4 linked regions of the Homo sapiens genome follow. The protein of the gene in region 3 interacts with the protein of the main gene of each other region in a biochemical or structural test. Each region holds a gene or a part of one and is shown on either strand. Other genes may lie near its edges.

Region 1 (3,594 bases), on a different chromosome or scaffold from region 3:
GACCAATTCTAGAAAATGTACTATCTGATTCACAAAGATGTATGTATGTGTAACTCTATTACTCTTATAATAACATGGCAAAATAATACAATGAAATAATCTATGAAGCGCTCTGATATTTATTCATTCAACAAATATTTTTGAGTACCTATATGTGTTGGACATTATCCTAGACATAGTGACAAACTAAAATATCAAATCAGACATGTTATACCTTTTCACAAAACCTTAAACTCCGTAAGGTACTCTAAATATACCAGTCTGCCTACCCATGATTGAATCTTTGCATGTTGAAATAGCCTTTGGTCAAAGACAATAAATTTTTTTATTGATGTAATGTAGATTTTTTTCCCAATGATCACAGAATCTTTGACAATCATTTTAACTACTTAAGACATGGATGATGGCTTTTTATACTTCCAATATAGGGACAACCTAACAGATGCTGAGAATGGCAACATTCAACTGCAAGCACAACGTGCATTTACCACCAGGCGGCAGATATCCGAGGAAACAGAAAGTGTTGACAACCGAGAGTCTTCCGAGGTATAAGTAGTTTCCTAGTTCTCCTTGAAAGACACATGCTATAGCAATAAAGTATGTGTGGCTCAAGCTTATTCTGTTCATTTTAGAACTGGGAAATTATAAGAGAAGATGAAGCCACCATGTATAGCAACCAGGCCTTCCCATCACCTCCACCGTCAAGTAACTTGGATGTTCCAACTCATCTTGCAGAAGAATTGAATGCCAGACTCACCATTTTTGGAAATTCAGCCGTGAGCCAGCCAGCATCGAGCTCAGTAAGATGCTCTTAGATTTTGTTACGGCTTCAGTAGTTTATATTATGCATATTATACTATTCAACAACTAACTTTTATGTAAAATTTTGTCTTAAATGCAATAATATGTAATAATACATTAGGGACCTTGGGACTTTACAACATGGTCATTTTTCAAATATCCTCATTAGTAGTATGGACCAGAGTCATGGCATCCAAATTTCCATTATGTCAGTGCCCTCCAGTCAAAAATCACTAGGGACACATTTGTCATTGAACAAGTTGGGTTTATTATTCATTTCAGCAAGGGAGAACACGCACCATTGGTGTTTTGGTAGCAGAATGTTAGAAAAGACTTCAGGGATTTGGGCTCCTGTTAGGTGATTTTGAAGAGGGTTTTAGGAAGCAGGACTTTGCTCTACATGAGATGCTGTTGGGAAGCAGGGATAATTCTATGATTTTGTATCTCAAATCTTATCTGTAGTGAGGCTAAAGCTATGATTAGCAAAGTAGAACAGTCACTCACATTTGCCAGGATGGGGAAATGTTTGGTATTTTGTGGCTTGGACAATGTTCATGTTTTGTCTATATTCAGCCACGATTACAGAGTGGTCTTGATTTTGTCTTGATCTTACCTATGAGTGCCAGGCCAGCTCTTGGATGTTAGGGACTGCTTTTCTCTCTCCCAGTTATGCTGAAGTTGGTTTTTTGTTTGCTTGTTTGTTTGTTTGTTTTGAGACATCTCACTCTGTCACCTAGACTGGAGTGCAGTGGTGCTATCTCGGCTTACTGCAAACTCCGTCTCCAGCTTCAGGCGATTCTCATGCCTCAGCCTCCTGAATAGCTGAGATTACAGGCGCACACCACCACGCCCAGCTAATTTTTGTATTTTTAGTAGAGATGGAGGAGTTTCACCCTGTTGGCCAGGCTAGTCTTGAACTCCTGGCCTCAAGTGATCCACCTGCCTCAGACTCCCAAAGTGCTGGGATTACAGGCATGAGCCACTGCTTCTGGCCTGAAGTTTTAACATTATATCACAGATGTCACCAACAGGTATATATGAATAAGAACTGATATACTTTGACTAAACAAGGAGATAGATGACATTTTCACTTCAGCCACCACTGTAAAAACTGTTGTCCATAGGGTTCAGAATAAAGTATCCCAGCATATGCTTCCACGATGAGAACTTCATAGCTAGCTGTCTAATATGTATCATCAAGGGAGATTGAGTAGAAGACAAAGATTATTCTCTGAGGATGCTATTTGTCATTTCCAGTTGAGGTTTCCCTGCCTTTCATTTAGTTAGTAAATATTTAATGAGAGCTGATCACATATATGCAGAGTACTATATGCTAGTTACTGAGGATACATCAGTCAATAAAATTAACAATATCTCCTGCCTTCATGGGACTTACATTCTAGTGCAGAGGAAAGCAAACTACAACCGGTGGGCCAAATCAGCAGCTGCCTGTTATGAATAATTACCATTGGAATACAGCCACATCATTTGTTTTGGTATTGCCCATCTCTGCTTTCACACGACATCATCTGAATAAAGTAGTTACAGCAGCAACCATATGGCCCACAGCCAGTATTTACTGTCTGGATCTTAACAGGAAATGTGTGCTAACCTCTGCTCTAGCATCTTCTTCAAGAAGCTTCACAGTAGATAGTTGTACGTGAATATGAATATCTGCCAGTAAATCCGCCTGCCTGCCTCCTGCCCTTCCTTTCTTCCATTTGTCTGTTCTGTCTTCCATTCATTTCATTTTTTCACAGGGGAGTGGGACAGGTCAGTCAAAGACCTAAACTACATTAGGCCAGGCGTGGTGGCTCACGCCTGTAATCCCAGCACTTTGGGAGGCTGGGATTATAGATGGGTTGAAGTCAGGAGTTCAAGACCAGCCTGGGCAACATGGCGAAACCTTGTCACTACTAAAAATACAAAAATTAGCTCGGTGTGGTGGTGCACACCTGTAATCCCAGCTACTTGGGAGGCTGAGATTGGAAGAATGGCTTGAACCCAAGAGGCAGAGGTTGCAGTGAGCCGAGATTGCACCATTGCACTTCAGCTTGGGTGACAGAGTGAAACTCCGTCTCAAGAAAAAAAAAAGAATAAACCATATTGATTTGCTGATGATAAATCACATACGATCCCATTCCCCTTCTTCCTGGTATTTTTTTTACTTAAAGTAATACATGGCAACCATATAGTGTAATACTATGCAGCCATTGAAGAGAACAAGGTGGGCTCGAGTGTATATGTTGGATGGAACAATCCCTAAGAGATGCTGGTAAATGAAAAACAGCAAGGTACAGAACAGTGTGTTTGTTACACCAGAATTTATGTAAATTATTTAAATGCAGAGCATAAATATGTGTATAATTTACTCGAGGACTAAACAGGAAACTAATAACTTTGCTTGCCTCTGAAGAGAGGCAAAGAATGAGCAGGATATATATTGTTTGTACCTTTTGTTTTTTTGAGATAGGGTCTCACTCTGTCGCCCAGGCTGGAGTGCAGTAGCATGATCATAGCCCACTGCAACCTCAAATTTCTGGGCTCAAGGGATTCTCCCACCTCAGCCTCTGGAGTAGCTGGTACTACAGGCACATGCCATTGTACCCCTGCTAATTTTTTTAAAAAATTTTTGTAAAGACTTGGTATAGTATTGTTTCCCAGGCTCCTTTTGAATTTTATAACATGTATGAGTGTTACCTATTTTAAAAAATATTTTTAAAGCACTGTATGGTTATGGTTACAAATTGAGATTGTATTTAGGTATATAAAATAAAATTTAAGACTGGGCAT
Region 2 (3,594 bases), on a different chromosome or scaffold from region 3:
TCACAAACAGCTCAGAAAGGCAGGGGAACTGTTCTAGATTAAAGGAGACTGAAAAGGCACGCCAAGGACAGGAACCTGAGGTCCCAGATTGGATGCTGGTAGACGGGGGGGTTTGGGGGTATTTTTGTTGTCTTTCTGTTGCCCAGGCTGGTCTTGGAACTCCCGGGCTTAAGCCATCTACCCACTTTGGCCTCCCAAAGTGTTGGGATTACAGGCGTGAGCCACAGCACCTGGCCTAGAAGGGGTTTTAAAGGACAAGTCCCCTGATGACCTAGTGGCTAGGAAAAAAAAACTACAAAAAAGGCCACGTGTGGACACGCAGTGAAACGTGGTCTGGAGAGCAGATGGCATGACTGTATCAAAGACAAACCGGGTGTCATCATGGTCGCCTCTACCGTTAGCAAGGCTAAGGGACAGAATGGGCCCACAGCCACAGGCAGAATCTGAAGGAGTCCTCAGAAGGCAGAAAGAACCATGGACCCGACACTTCTCAGCCTTTCGGCTAAGATCAAGTGTAGAACCACAGACCCTGCGGTGCGGCCCCGCCCCCGCTGACTCACTTCTCCTCCGAGGCGGCCTGGCGCTCCATGCGGAGCGCGGCCTCCACGCTCTGGCCCTGCATGCGCAGCTGGTCCACCTGCACGCTGTGCTGCTGCTGCAGCGCCTCGCGCTCACTCTCCAGCTGCCGCGCCTGCTCGCTGGCCGCCCGGGCCCTGGCACGGGGAAAGAGCAGACTCAGGGAGGACGAACGGGGGGACGGCAGGGGCTATGCGCAGGGCGTGGGCGGGGGGTGGGGGTCGGCTCTGAACACCCTGTGACTGCGAGCTGATGCCAGGCGGCAGGGTGGAGGCACCGTCAACAGACACGAGGACAACTGCAGGGGGCCAGGTGGGAGCAGCAGGTGAGGAGCTTTGCTTAAGACGTGTTTGCTTCAATGCAGGGGCCCAGCAGGTGACCAAGTACAGATGGCAAGGAGACCTGGAAGCCAGGGGAAGGGGGTGGTCCGAGAAAAGGATGGGGTCGCCTGCATCCCGCAGTGCTGGGGCCAGGTGAGAGGAGCCCTCGGAACTGCCCGTGGAGTTCCACTGGGGGACTGCTGGGGGCCCCAGCAAAAGCAGTCTCAGTGGAGGGGGTCAGGAGAGACTGCTGTTCCAAAAATGAGAGACTGCCCACCTGGGCGTGCAAGCACTGAGCTCAATGCAGACCGGGCCTCGGCCCCATCCCTGCTGCTGCCCAGAGCTCTGCTGGAGTCCCAGACGACCTGCTCGGATGCTCAGTTCCCACACCTGCCCCCCTACAGCTCCCTTAACCTCCAGTTTCCAGGGTCTGGCCTCATCCCACCACACCAAGCCCTTCCACAGCCTCACTGCAGGGACAATGGTGGGTGCATCTGTCCAGGTCCTGGGTGGCCTCTGGCCACAGGCAGACACGGCCCTTCTCCAGTCACCCCAACTCTGCCTGGCAGGCCTGGCTGCTTGGCTCTCCCCTCCGCGCCTGCCTGCATACTGCCCCCACACCCTGCACGGGTTCCCTCTGCCCATCAGAGCCTGGGTCAAGCTCCCCTCCCCTCTGCCCTGCTGGCTGCCCCAAGTGCACCTTGACCGCCTACTGTGCTGGGATGGCTGGGGCCCCCCTGGCAGCTGATCCATCTGTCTGGAGGGCAGAAGCAGGACCGAATGAGAACCACAGAAACCTCCCTGCCCTTTGACCCAATGGTCCCACTCACAAGAACCAAGACCCCTTTGCAAAAGAGAGTAACCAGCAGGCCTGAGGCCACCGGCTGGCAAGGTTGGCCCTTGGCTGGTGAAGTTCCCTTGCCACAGTGACACTTTCTCTAGTGGTCAGGTCGGTCCCTGCACCTAGGCCATTTGTAGGAAGAACGTGGTTGACGTGAGCACCCGCTCTGCTGCTGGGAGTCGGGGATTTAGGTACCTGCCTGGCAGAGGGCGCTGACAGGACCTGCCCCCAGTAAACACCCAGGGCGCTGAGTCTCTAGCGGGCATCCCTGGGCAGGAACACGGCCCGTGTGGGAGGCGCTTCTCACTGTGCCGCTCGCAGGGCAGCGGGAGGCTGGGACAGGGCTTCTCCAACTCCCCCCACGGCTCCTGCCCTGGCGGCTCCTGCCCTGTGCCTTTTTCCCTGTCATCAACCTCAGCCACGAGGGCGACTGTGCGCCGGTCCCAGAAGTCCTTCCAGAGAACTAGACACTGTGGGTGTGGGCTCGGGGCCCCCAGAATGCCTCCTAAGGAAATAATCCAAACTCCATCAAAGGGTCACAGAGTGCGGAGAGCCGGCTGGGACCCAGGTCCCGGATGCCTGGCCCAGACCTCTCCCGACGTCTGCCCCGACGTCTTTACGCAGCCTGCCCCGGTCTATCCTCATCAAGGAGCACCCTGGAGGCCCCTAAACCCACCTCATTGCTTTTGGAAACCCTGGAAGGGGTCTCCGGAGCCGGCTCCCCCGACTCACCGACCCTCCAGAGCCTGGCATTCCTTAGTGGCAGCCTCCAAGCGACTCTGGCTCTCCTGCAGCTCCCCGAGCAAGGACGTCACCTGGGCTTTCACAGAGGCCTTGTCCTCAGCCATCTGCTGCAGGATAAAAAGCCACTTCCTGTCAGCACTGCTTTCTCCCCAGCGGCCCACTCCTGCCATCCGCAAGCCCGGGGCAACCCGCAAGCGGCTGAGGCCTGCGCGCCATGAGGCCTTTTTTCCTGCCCTCGGCACCCCCAAACCTGGGTGCCCTAGGGCCTCATGAGCCCAAGGGCCACCCAACCCTCCCCAGCTGCCCACCTTAACCCTCTGCCACAGGGTGACACACAGATGGGGCAAAAAGAGATCCCCAAAGAGACGAAGGAGCACAAAGCTGCCTTGAGGTTGTCAACGGCTTAGTCACTGCCCCGGCAAGCAGGCCTCGAGGGCTGAACCCGGTGGCCTTGCAGCTACAGCCCCAGCAGGGGATCTCTCTCCGTCTCTCTGAGACTTGGGACAAAAGGAGGCCAGACACGAATAGGGCAAAGTAAACACAGGCCCCAGTCCACACCCGGGGCCGCCAGGATGGGAGAGTTTGTGCAGATCAAGAGTGGACACTGAATTTTGTTAAACACTGGGAACTGCAGAACCTCTCGGCAGGCACACTGCACTCAAACCCCTGCCCGAAGACACCCGGCCACCACCTCGCGGGGCCTCTGGGAGCCTAAGGCCGCGCCCCTGGGACGCCCCAGCCCCCTTTTGAGTGAGTTCCCGTCTGGAAACGCTCAGGGCTGCCCAGAGCATGTACTGTCTGTTCCGGCCAACACCTGACCTCCCTTTCTGACAGCATTTACTACAAAGGGCTTACCCTGTCCCTTTGAGACATCTGTGTAGCACCCACAACCCAGGGGCTTTCCCGAGGGCCCCGCAGCCACTCCTTGGAAACGGAAACCTCAGGAGGCGCGGGGCCCAGTCTCCCAGTCTCCACGGGACGGAAGCATCCCAACCTTGGTAAGCACCGGCAGCTCCCACACACGGCTGGCCTCGCGGCAAGGACGCTGGCTGCCCCGTCATCTTTCACCTGAGCCTGCACTCGCCCCCTCCCGACTCCCTCCTTCTCCCTTCG
Region 3 (4,960 bases):
CTTCCAGAGCTGTTGATGGAAATGAGCTCTTGGGGGAGCCTAGAGATTCTTTTTTCAGTGGTCCTGTAAGCATTCAAGGTTGAGCTTCAGAAAGATGAGGGAGGAGTCATAGCTACAGTAAAGAAAAGAATAGATTTTATCTGTTGCCTGTATACAGTCTCATAGAATTCTTATTTTTCATAATTGTGCATTTTAATTGATAGTCATATGGTATTTTTGTTAATAACAGCAAAGGCATTAAATCAGTACCATTGTTCCTTCTGCCTGATGACTTCTTGTTTGTAACACAATCTGTATTATCAGAATCACTTTAAACCAAAGCTTTTATATTCCCTGTACACATAGCCAAAATAATTAGCACTGTTACTTCTGTCCACTTGTAAGCTAATAGTATAAAAATTATAAAGCAGATACTAGTAGAATTTGTATTCTGGTATATCCTTCAAGGAAAAGGACAGGTGATCAGTGCATTTAGACATCCAGAAGTTACTTCCACTATTGAGGAACTATGTAGACATGAATTTAAGCTTGTACATGTGCCAATCTTGTTAATGTCACTTGACCACTGATTCACATAGACAGACATTAACGTCTGATGCCTCAGGTTGATGGCGAACTTTCTTCCTAGTGTCTTAACATTTATGAACTTATGTTTGACTTGAGGGGCATTTCAGCAAAGCTGTGAGGAAAAGTAGGTTCTGGACTGATGTCTGCTTTGTGCCATAGACATTTTGGAACATAAGGAAGTATCTGCTTCTACTATATGTACAGGACTTGTCCCCAAATAATTTCTGAATCCCTTAATGCAGTTGAGAATCCCTTAATGCAGTTGAGAACAGTAAAGTTCATGACCATACCGAAAAGCACTTTTAAGTTCACTTCTTTTTAAATATTTTTTTAGAATTTATTTTTTAAAAGCATATGTAACTAGTGATGATTTTAGCATTAGCTTTACTTGGAGGGGAGAAGAAACAAAATTACACCTTAAACTCTATTAGATAGACTACAAAATGGATTTGATGTATTCTTACTTTTCCAAAGAATTTTTTCCACCTGGAATAAGAAGAGAGGACTAGTTGAAACATTTGAGCTGGAGAGGCTTATGGGCAATATGAAGTGGGCCAAATTCTTGCAATACACCCTATTCAATTGAAAGTACAGTGTCTAAGGATAAGAATACTTCTTTAAAGACCAACAATTGTTTTAATGCAATCTTAATTAGTAAATGGTTTACATTTTTTCTATTGTTATTGGTTTTAAAATTTGCTACCCTGAATTCTGAAATATTATAAGAGTTAATACCAAAAATACTTTTAATGTCTGACATCTCTTACATTTCACATGGTTCTTTTTATTCATTGTAAATAAAAGTAAACTTGGATAAATTTGAGAATAAACTTTGAATTGTTGCAAACTATGATTATCAATTTGTAAATTTACCCTTTGACATAATAATGTACATTTTTAAATGTAGCCATTAAATTCTCTATATTTAACCTATTGGTTTCTCTCTAAATGTTTTTAATCTCAGTTGAATGCTGGGCAGTTTATAATTATGTACAAAGGGTTTTTTTCCTATTAAGATTGACATTTTTGCACATTTTTGGAAATGTTTAATTTGTACACTGATTTACTACTCTGACCAATAATTGTTGATGAGTGTATGAGCATCATGAATGCGTGCATTGAACTACTGTCTGTGTCTTTATGTTTTAACTTCTTTCAAGATGTAGCCATCAGTTACTGCACTGCTATTACTGACTTAAATGGACCTTTTTGCTTTTACAAACTATACTTATCTATGGTTCTTTGTTGAAGAACTCAGGAGTTCGACATTAATAGAAATTAGAAAATTTTATAATGTATTATAAAATCCATTACTAAGTTGAAAGTATGCTTTTAACTGTGTATCAGGGGATGTATGTTTGTGTGGAGATGTTTTTTTCTGTCTGTAGGCACATGTATATATCCCAGTAAGTTCTTATTTTCATTTCATTTCTACATTTTTATGAACTTGTTTTATAAGGGTACTGTTTAGTTGTGATAATTAAATATATATAAAAGCTTTCTGAGAGATTATTTACTATATGAATATATTTTCAGCTGGCTGATCAAAAGTATTTTTAAAATTTTGTTTTTAGCCATTCAAAATGTATTTGTATTTTCAGAATTGAATGCAAGTCATACTTAGAGCTCAATTAAAATACTCTTGCAAGAAAAAGCATTAAATTCTCTTTGAGAATTCCGTGAAATGCAAATTAAGGGAAAAATAGGTTTTAAGCAGTAGCAAAAACACACCGCTAAAAATGGCCTTTGAATTCTCAGAGCTATGGAAAAATGTGAGAAACTAAATTGTCTCGAGATGTCAAGATTTTTCTATCTCCAGTTGCTATTGGCCTGTCCTACTGTTGTCTTTGAATATTTCCTGTATTCCACCCCAAAAGATTTCAACTTTTAGTTTTTCTATCACTGGGCAAGGTCAGACTGGGTTTATAAAACAATATATTGGCATATTGTGATTCTTTGTAATTGACTATAAATTGGTTTTGAAATGTCCAAACATACGTTGTGTGTCTTTATATTGTACTGTGTGTTTTAAGTAACTGGCAGAAAAAGAATTGGAAATGAAATTTCCAATCAGACAATGTAGTATTAAAGAAAACTTTGTTTTAAATATGCGGTACCATGTAAAATTACTCGTGTTAGGAATAAAGTCCACTGTTGAAGTTGAATGTCACTAAGCTTATTATGTTAAAAGGAACCAGTGTGATTAGGAAAACCTACCAGAAGCCAGATACAGTGTGGTACGTGCAACATTTCATGCACATTTTGATTTTGTTTGTCATTCAAAATTGTGCTTGTAAAAATGTATACAATTTCTGAGTTTTATAATTTCTAGGTACTTGTTTTTTCTTGCTGGTAAATAGCTTTTTTTTAAAAAAAAATCTAATATAAAAGAAACCATGTTTATATTTTGTTAGTGATCAATGACTTTGTTTATATGGAAATTTGTATATTGTTGGCACACATTTTGTTGAGGTTTACGTGCATGAAGGCCTGCAATAATTAGCACAATGAAAACTGCTTTTTCTTACATGTTCATTTTTTTGAAAGATTGTGGTGCAAAGGCTTACTCTAATAAGTAACCTTCTGGACTATGGAATGAATATAAATGAATGGCACTTTGAGTGTTAATAAAGCTAATATTTATTTCCACTGTGATTGGTTTTTCCAAATCTATTCTTGGACACATTTTATTTACAGTTATTCCCTCCTTGCTTGAGTTGAGCACTCTCTAGGAAACCAAGCGCAGACAAATCTAAAAACAATGAAACTAAACCAAATCTTTCCAGTATCTAAGTCTATAATGTTCCACCCAACTTGTAGTATATCTTTGGCTGGACATCTTGATTACCTAAATCAGAACTAATGATTAAAAACAAACACAAACCCTACTATCAAACCTACTGAGTATAAGGAATGGTCTCTCACATGGTGCTGGAGATTATTTATTTATTTATTTATTTATTTTGAGACAGAGTCTTGCTCTGTCGCCCAGGCTGGAGTGCAGTGGCATGATCTCGGCTCACTGCAAGCTCTGCCTCCCGCGTTCAGGCCATTCTCCTGCCTCGGTATCCTGAGTAGCTGGGACTACAGGCACCTGCCACCATGCCCAGCTAATTTTATTTGTATTTTTAGTGGAGACAGGGTTTCACCATATTAGCCAGGATGGTCTTGATCTCCTGACCTCGTGATCCATCCGCCTCGGCCTCCCAAAGTGCTGGGATTACAGGCGTGAGCCACTGCGCCTGGCGGAGATAATTTAATACTTTGGTATAGAGGGCAACTTAACACAACCTCAGAATTGAAACCTCAGAATCAGAATCAGAAACCTCAGAATTGGCCGGGCATGGTGATCCCAGCACTTTGGGAGGCCGAGGTGGGTGGACCACTTGAACTCAGGAGTTTGAGACCAGCCTGGGCAACATGGTAAAACCCTGTTTCTACAAATAATACAAAAATCAGCCACGTGTGGTGGTGCATGCCTGTGGTCCCAGCTACCCAGGAGGCTGAGGTGGGTGGGTCGCTTCAGCCTGGGAGACAGAGGTTGCAGTGAGCTGAGATTGCACCACTGCACTGCAGTCTTCATGACAGAACGAGACCCTGTCTTAAATTTCAGAACCTTGTATATCCTCTGACCCACCAATTTATACCTAGGAATTAACCTGTGGAAATAGATTGTGAATGTTTTAAGTTGTATCTATAAAAGCCCAAACTTAAAACTCTAAATGTCCAACAATAGGGGCTATTGTAACAAAGTACCACACATTAGGTGGCTTATAATAAAAAATTTATTGTCTCACAGTTACGGAGGCTAGAAGTCAGAAATCAAGGTGTGGGCAGGACCATGCTCCTTCTGACACCCATAAGGGAATCTTTCCTTGCCTCTTCCAACTTATTTTTATATATTAGAAATTGGGTCTCACTATGTTGCCCAGGTTGGCCTCATACTTCTGGGCTCCCACCTCAGCCTCCCAAGTAGCTGGGACTACATGTGCTCCATGGCGTTGTGTCCAGCTGCCTCTTCCAACTTCTGATAGCATCCCTTGGTTTGTGGCAGCATAAATCCGATCTCTGCTTCCATCAGCACGTGGTGCTTTTTGTGTGTCTATTGACACAAGTGTGTGTGCTCCCCTTTTTATAAGGAGACCAGTTACTGGATTAGGCCCACCCTAATGACCTAATTTTAACTTGATTACCTCTATAAAGACCCTGTTTCCAAATAAGGCCATACTCTGAGGTAGTAGGGGTTAGGACTTCAAAATATCTTTTTGGGTCAGGCACAGTGGCTCATGCCTGTAATCCCAGCACTTGGGGGGCCAAGGCGATGGACAACTTAAGTCCAGCAGTTCAAGACCAGCCTGGGCAACATGGTGAAACCCCGTCTGTACAAAAAAAT
Region 4 (3,594 bases), on a different chromosome or scaffold from region 3:
CAGCGCACACTTTGTGCCAGATGCTGTGCTAGGTATTGAGGACACATAGATGACTACGATATGACCCATACTCCTGTGGCACTCAGTCTGAGGGAGCATATAAATTTGTAAGTAAAAAATTAGAATCAGGCAATAAATGTCAGTAGACAATATGGAAAAGTTCCCAGGCAATTCCTTGAGAGAAGAAAATTCTTAATGTATAGGATGGGCCCAGCCTTGTGAGGTTTTGCTCAAGTAGTCTCCAAGAAGAAATGGCATTTACCAAGCAGCCAGTCTGTTATAATGGGACACATTAAAAATCACAAGGAGTTTGCTGTGTGACTGGGAGACCATTAAGTTATAAGAGCTGTCAGTGTATGTTATTTAGGATTTTTGTAGCAAGGTTTATATGAGAGATTGGCCTGTAATTTTCCTTTCTTTTAATATCCTTGTATGGTATCAAGGTTATGCTGGCCTTATAAGTGTTGGAAAGTATTCTTTCCTTGTTATGCTCTGGAAGAGGCTGTGTAAGACTGGTATTATTTCTTCCTTGAATGACTGCAAAGCCATTGGGACCTGGGGTTTTCTTTAGTCAATGTGTACTAAACATTTAGTAGAAACAGTGACCCAAAATTTCAACTTAAGTTGAATATGTATCTGAAAAGGTTTATTATTCTTACTAACATTTTCACATAAAACTTCCCTCTGCTCACTGAGGTTAATTCACAGTTTGATCAGTGTTGTATCAGTGACAGAAATTCACTAGTATAAAAACCCAGTCCATTTCTAACCACCAAATGGTGTATTACAGCTTCAAAAAAAAATTTTTTTTTTTTTACTACCTAGGCTTTGTGCTGGGGGTTACCATGGTGTCAAATGAGACAAATCCATGTCATCCAGATACTTGTGGACTCAATTTGATATGAGCAAGCATCAGATCATTTTAATCTACTTGCTTTATTGGGATGTGTATGTGGATATATTAAGGGCTGATTATTTTGATGGGCTTTGCTGTTTGGAATGCTTTGTCTTAATTTTTGTGGATGAATTTTTAATTTATATATTTCATAAGAAGTAATGAATTTGCATCATTCACACTTCAGAAGTTATAAATAAGGTTCTCCACCTTTGTCCTTTAGTCACCCAGTTTCCCATCTCTGGAGCCAAAAGATGTTAGTTGCTTCTTAGCTATTCATCAATTTTTATATCCTCTGAATATGCAATATATTCACCCCCGCTCCCTTCCCCCACCCCGTTTTTTTTAAACACTTTCTCTTCTGCACCTTGCTTTTAATTTAGTAAGTCCTTAGAAACTGTTCCTTATTGCATGTTAAAACTACGTCTTGTTTCTTTTCTCTTATGACTTCCTTGTATCTTGTGACAACAGTAATAATAAATTAATGTAGTCATTGTGATATTGATGGATTTTTAGGTTATTTCCAGTCTTCCTGCCCAAAAAAGTTACATCGAATATCCCAAATTGCTTTTGAATAATTAAATCATCATTTTATCTTCCTTCACTAGTTTTTTAGGACAGATTTTTTTTTTCTTTTCATTTCAGCCATGAACCAGAGAATCAGTCAGAGTGCTCCAGTGAAACAGCCACCACCCCTGGCTCCCCAGAGCCCACAGGGAGGCGTCATGGGTGGCAGCAACTCCAACCAGCAGCAACAGATGCGACTGCAGCAACTGCAGATGGAGAAGGAGAGGCTGCGGCTGAAACAGCAAGAACTGCTTCGGCAGGTGAGGCCACAGGTTAGAAACCAGCCTTCCACTTTTGGGGGTTTGTTTTCTTAAAGTTGGGCAGATTTCATTTTAACATTTATTAGTTACAGAGGAATGTTGTCTTTGTAAAACTGAGTGACACAGAAGCATTCTATCCAGCCCTGTCCTTGTCTTAGTTTTGTGACTGTGAATGGCCTTTGATCAAGTTACAAGGGATGTGACTTGGAAACCTGTATCATGAAGAGCTGTTTTGGTCATGGTCATTGCAATTGAGCAAAAATTGAAGGAAGCAAGGATGCTTTCTCTAATGTACATGGAATTGTGGATTGCTGTTTTTCTGAGGATTTCACTAAAGGGGAAATTCTAGAACATCACTCAGGAGAAAACATCCTTTATTAATAACTTACGTGGCGGGATACACCAATATGACATTTCTCAAATGACAAATATACTTCGGTATTACCGAATCTAAGAATTTTCATTGAAAACAAAATAAATGTTACCTTTGGCCAGGTGCGGTGGCTCATGCCTGTAATCCCAGCACTTTGGGAGGCCAGGGTGGGCAGATCACTTGAGGCCAGTTCAAGACAAGCCTGGCCAACTTAGCGAAACCCCATCTCTACTAAAAATAAAAAAATTAGCCAAGCGTGGTGGCACACACCTGTAATCTCAACTTCTCAGGAGGCTGAGGCACAAGAATCACTTGAGCTTCGGAGGCAGAGGTTCGGTGAGCCAAGATTGTGCCACCGCACTCAAGCCTGGGTGACAGAGTGAGATTCTGTCTCAAAAACAAAAAGTTATCTTCAAGTTTAGAAGATGCCAGTGTGCTTTAAAATTACCTGCTTATGGATGTTTTTTTATTTTGGGGAAAGTAGGACATAGTAGAGAGCTTTGAAGCCCTTTAATCACCAATTCCATCAGCTTTCTTCCAGAAGGTACTGTTGGTTTTTATGTTCCTAATATATATAATTAATCTCAACATTAATTTTTACTTTATCTTATTTCAGAGTGGTTAAATCTACTAAGTTCAGATATTGGAGATAAGGTCTTTTGTTAAGTAGCGTAGATATTTTTAAATTTCCATATAAAATTTTTTTGAATAGATAATAGAAAAATGGTATACTAGTGATAGATGTACAGAGGTGAAAGTACACTCAAAATAAGATCTTTTCCCTGTTTTTCTAGTTCTCTCCTATGGGGCCTAAATAACTATGAGTTTCTTAGGTTTTTTGTTTTTTGTTAATTTTTCCAGAGATACTCTGTTTACATACATAAAATACATGTATCTGTGCCATTTTTTCCCTAGCTAAATCACAGCATGCTAAGTATAGACATTTAAAAATCGTCATACTCGGCCAGGCATGGTGGCTCATGCCTCTAATCCCAACACTTTGGGAGGCCGAGGCAGGAGGTTTGCTTGAGCCCAGGAGTTCGAAACCAGCCTGGGCAACATGGCGAGACTCTGTCTCTTAAAAAAAAAAAAAGCTCTACATTTCTGTTACCAGGAAGGAGGCACCTAAAGGTCTGTTTTTTGTTTTTTGGGTTTTTTTTAGGGCTGTATTTTAAAAGTATCTCTTGAGTGTCAGTGAAAATATGTGAACTCAGTACTACCTGAACTCTGATTTGGGGTTTGAGGAATTGGTACTTCAGGAGTTAAATTAAGCCATGGCATCTGAGACAGGCTCACGTTGAAACTGTGCTTTGTCGGTAATCTGTCCATACAATTCTAGTGTGATTGGCATCAAAGGTAAACCCTGATAGAAGGAGTAAGACAGTATGTGCCAACATACGATGTCAGGAACTTGTTGGGGCTCAGAAAATGATACTCCAAAATATGGTTCTTTGACAAACTAAGGAAGCAGCCTCAAGTTCTATGCCAAAGCACAGGAT

Evidence for each region.
Region 1: the proteins of MAP3K2 (region 3) and NEDD4 form a complex in vitro, tested with the Homo sapiens proteins (2 studies listed by BioGRID and IntAct, with this or other methods).
Region 2: the proteins of MAP3K2 (region 3) and IKBKG form a complex in vitro, tested with the Homo sapiens proteins (one study listed by BioGRID and IntAct).
Region 4: of the proteins of MAP3K2 (region 3) and YAP1, one has a biochemical effect on the other in vitro, tested with the Homo sapiens proteins (one study listed by BioGRID).

What each region holds. Positions count from the first base shown.
Region 1 is NC_000015.10:55,857,613-55,861,206, reverse strand, and holds part of NEDD4 (E3 ubiquitin-protein ligase NEDD4), read left to right. Parts: intron 1-428; coding exon 429-546; intron 547-632; coding exon 633-800; intron 801-3,594. UniProt on the Homo sapiens protein: E3 ubiquitin-protein ligase which accepts ubiquitin from an E2 ubiquitin-conjugating enzyme in the form of a thioester and then directly transfers the ubiquitin to targeted substrates. Specifically ubiquitinates 'Lys-63' in target proteins.
Region 2 is NC_000023.11:154,557,526-154,561,119, reverse strand, and holds part of IKBKG (NF-kappa-B essential modulator), read right to left. Parts: intron 2,589-3,594; coding exon 2,470-2,588; intron 714-2,469; coding exon 561-713; intron 1-560. UniProt on the Homo sapiens protein: Regulatory subunit of the IKK core complex which phosphorylates inhibitors of NF-kappa-B thus leading to the dissociation of the inhibitor/NF-kappa-B complex and ultimately the degradation of the inhibitor.
Region 3 is NC_000002.12:127,296,930-127,301,889, reverse strand, and holds the end of MAP3K2 (mitogen-activated protein kinase kinase kinase 2), read left to right. Parts: 3' UTR 1-3,222; downstream 3,223-4,960. UniProt on the Homo sapiens protein: Component of a protein kinase signal transduction cascade. Regulates the JNK and ERK5 pathways by phosphorylating and activating MAP2K5 and MAP2K7. Plays a role in caveolae kiss-and-run dynamics.
Region 4 is NC_000011.10:102,204,353-102,207,946, forward strand, and holds part of YAP1 (transcriptional coactivator YAP1), read left to right. Parts: intron 1-1,540; coding exon 1,541-1,722; coding exon of another isoform or gene 1,723-1,734; intron 1,735-3,594. UniProt on the Homo sapiens protein: Transcriptional regulator with dual roles as a coactivator and corepressor. Critical downstream regulatory target in the Hippo signaling pathway, crucial for organ size control and tumor suppression by restricting proliferation and promoting apoptosis.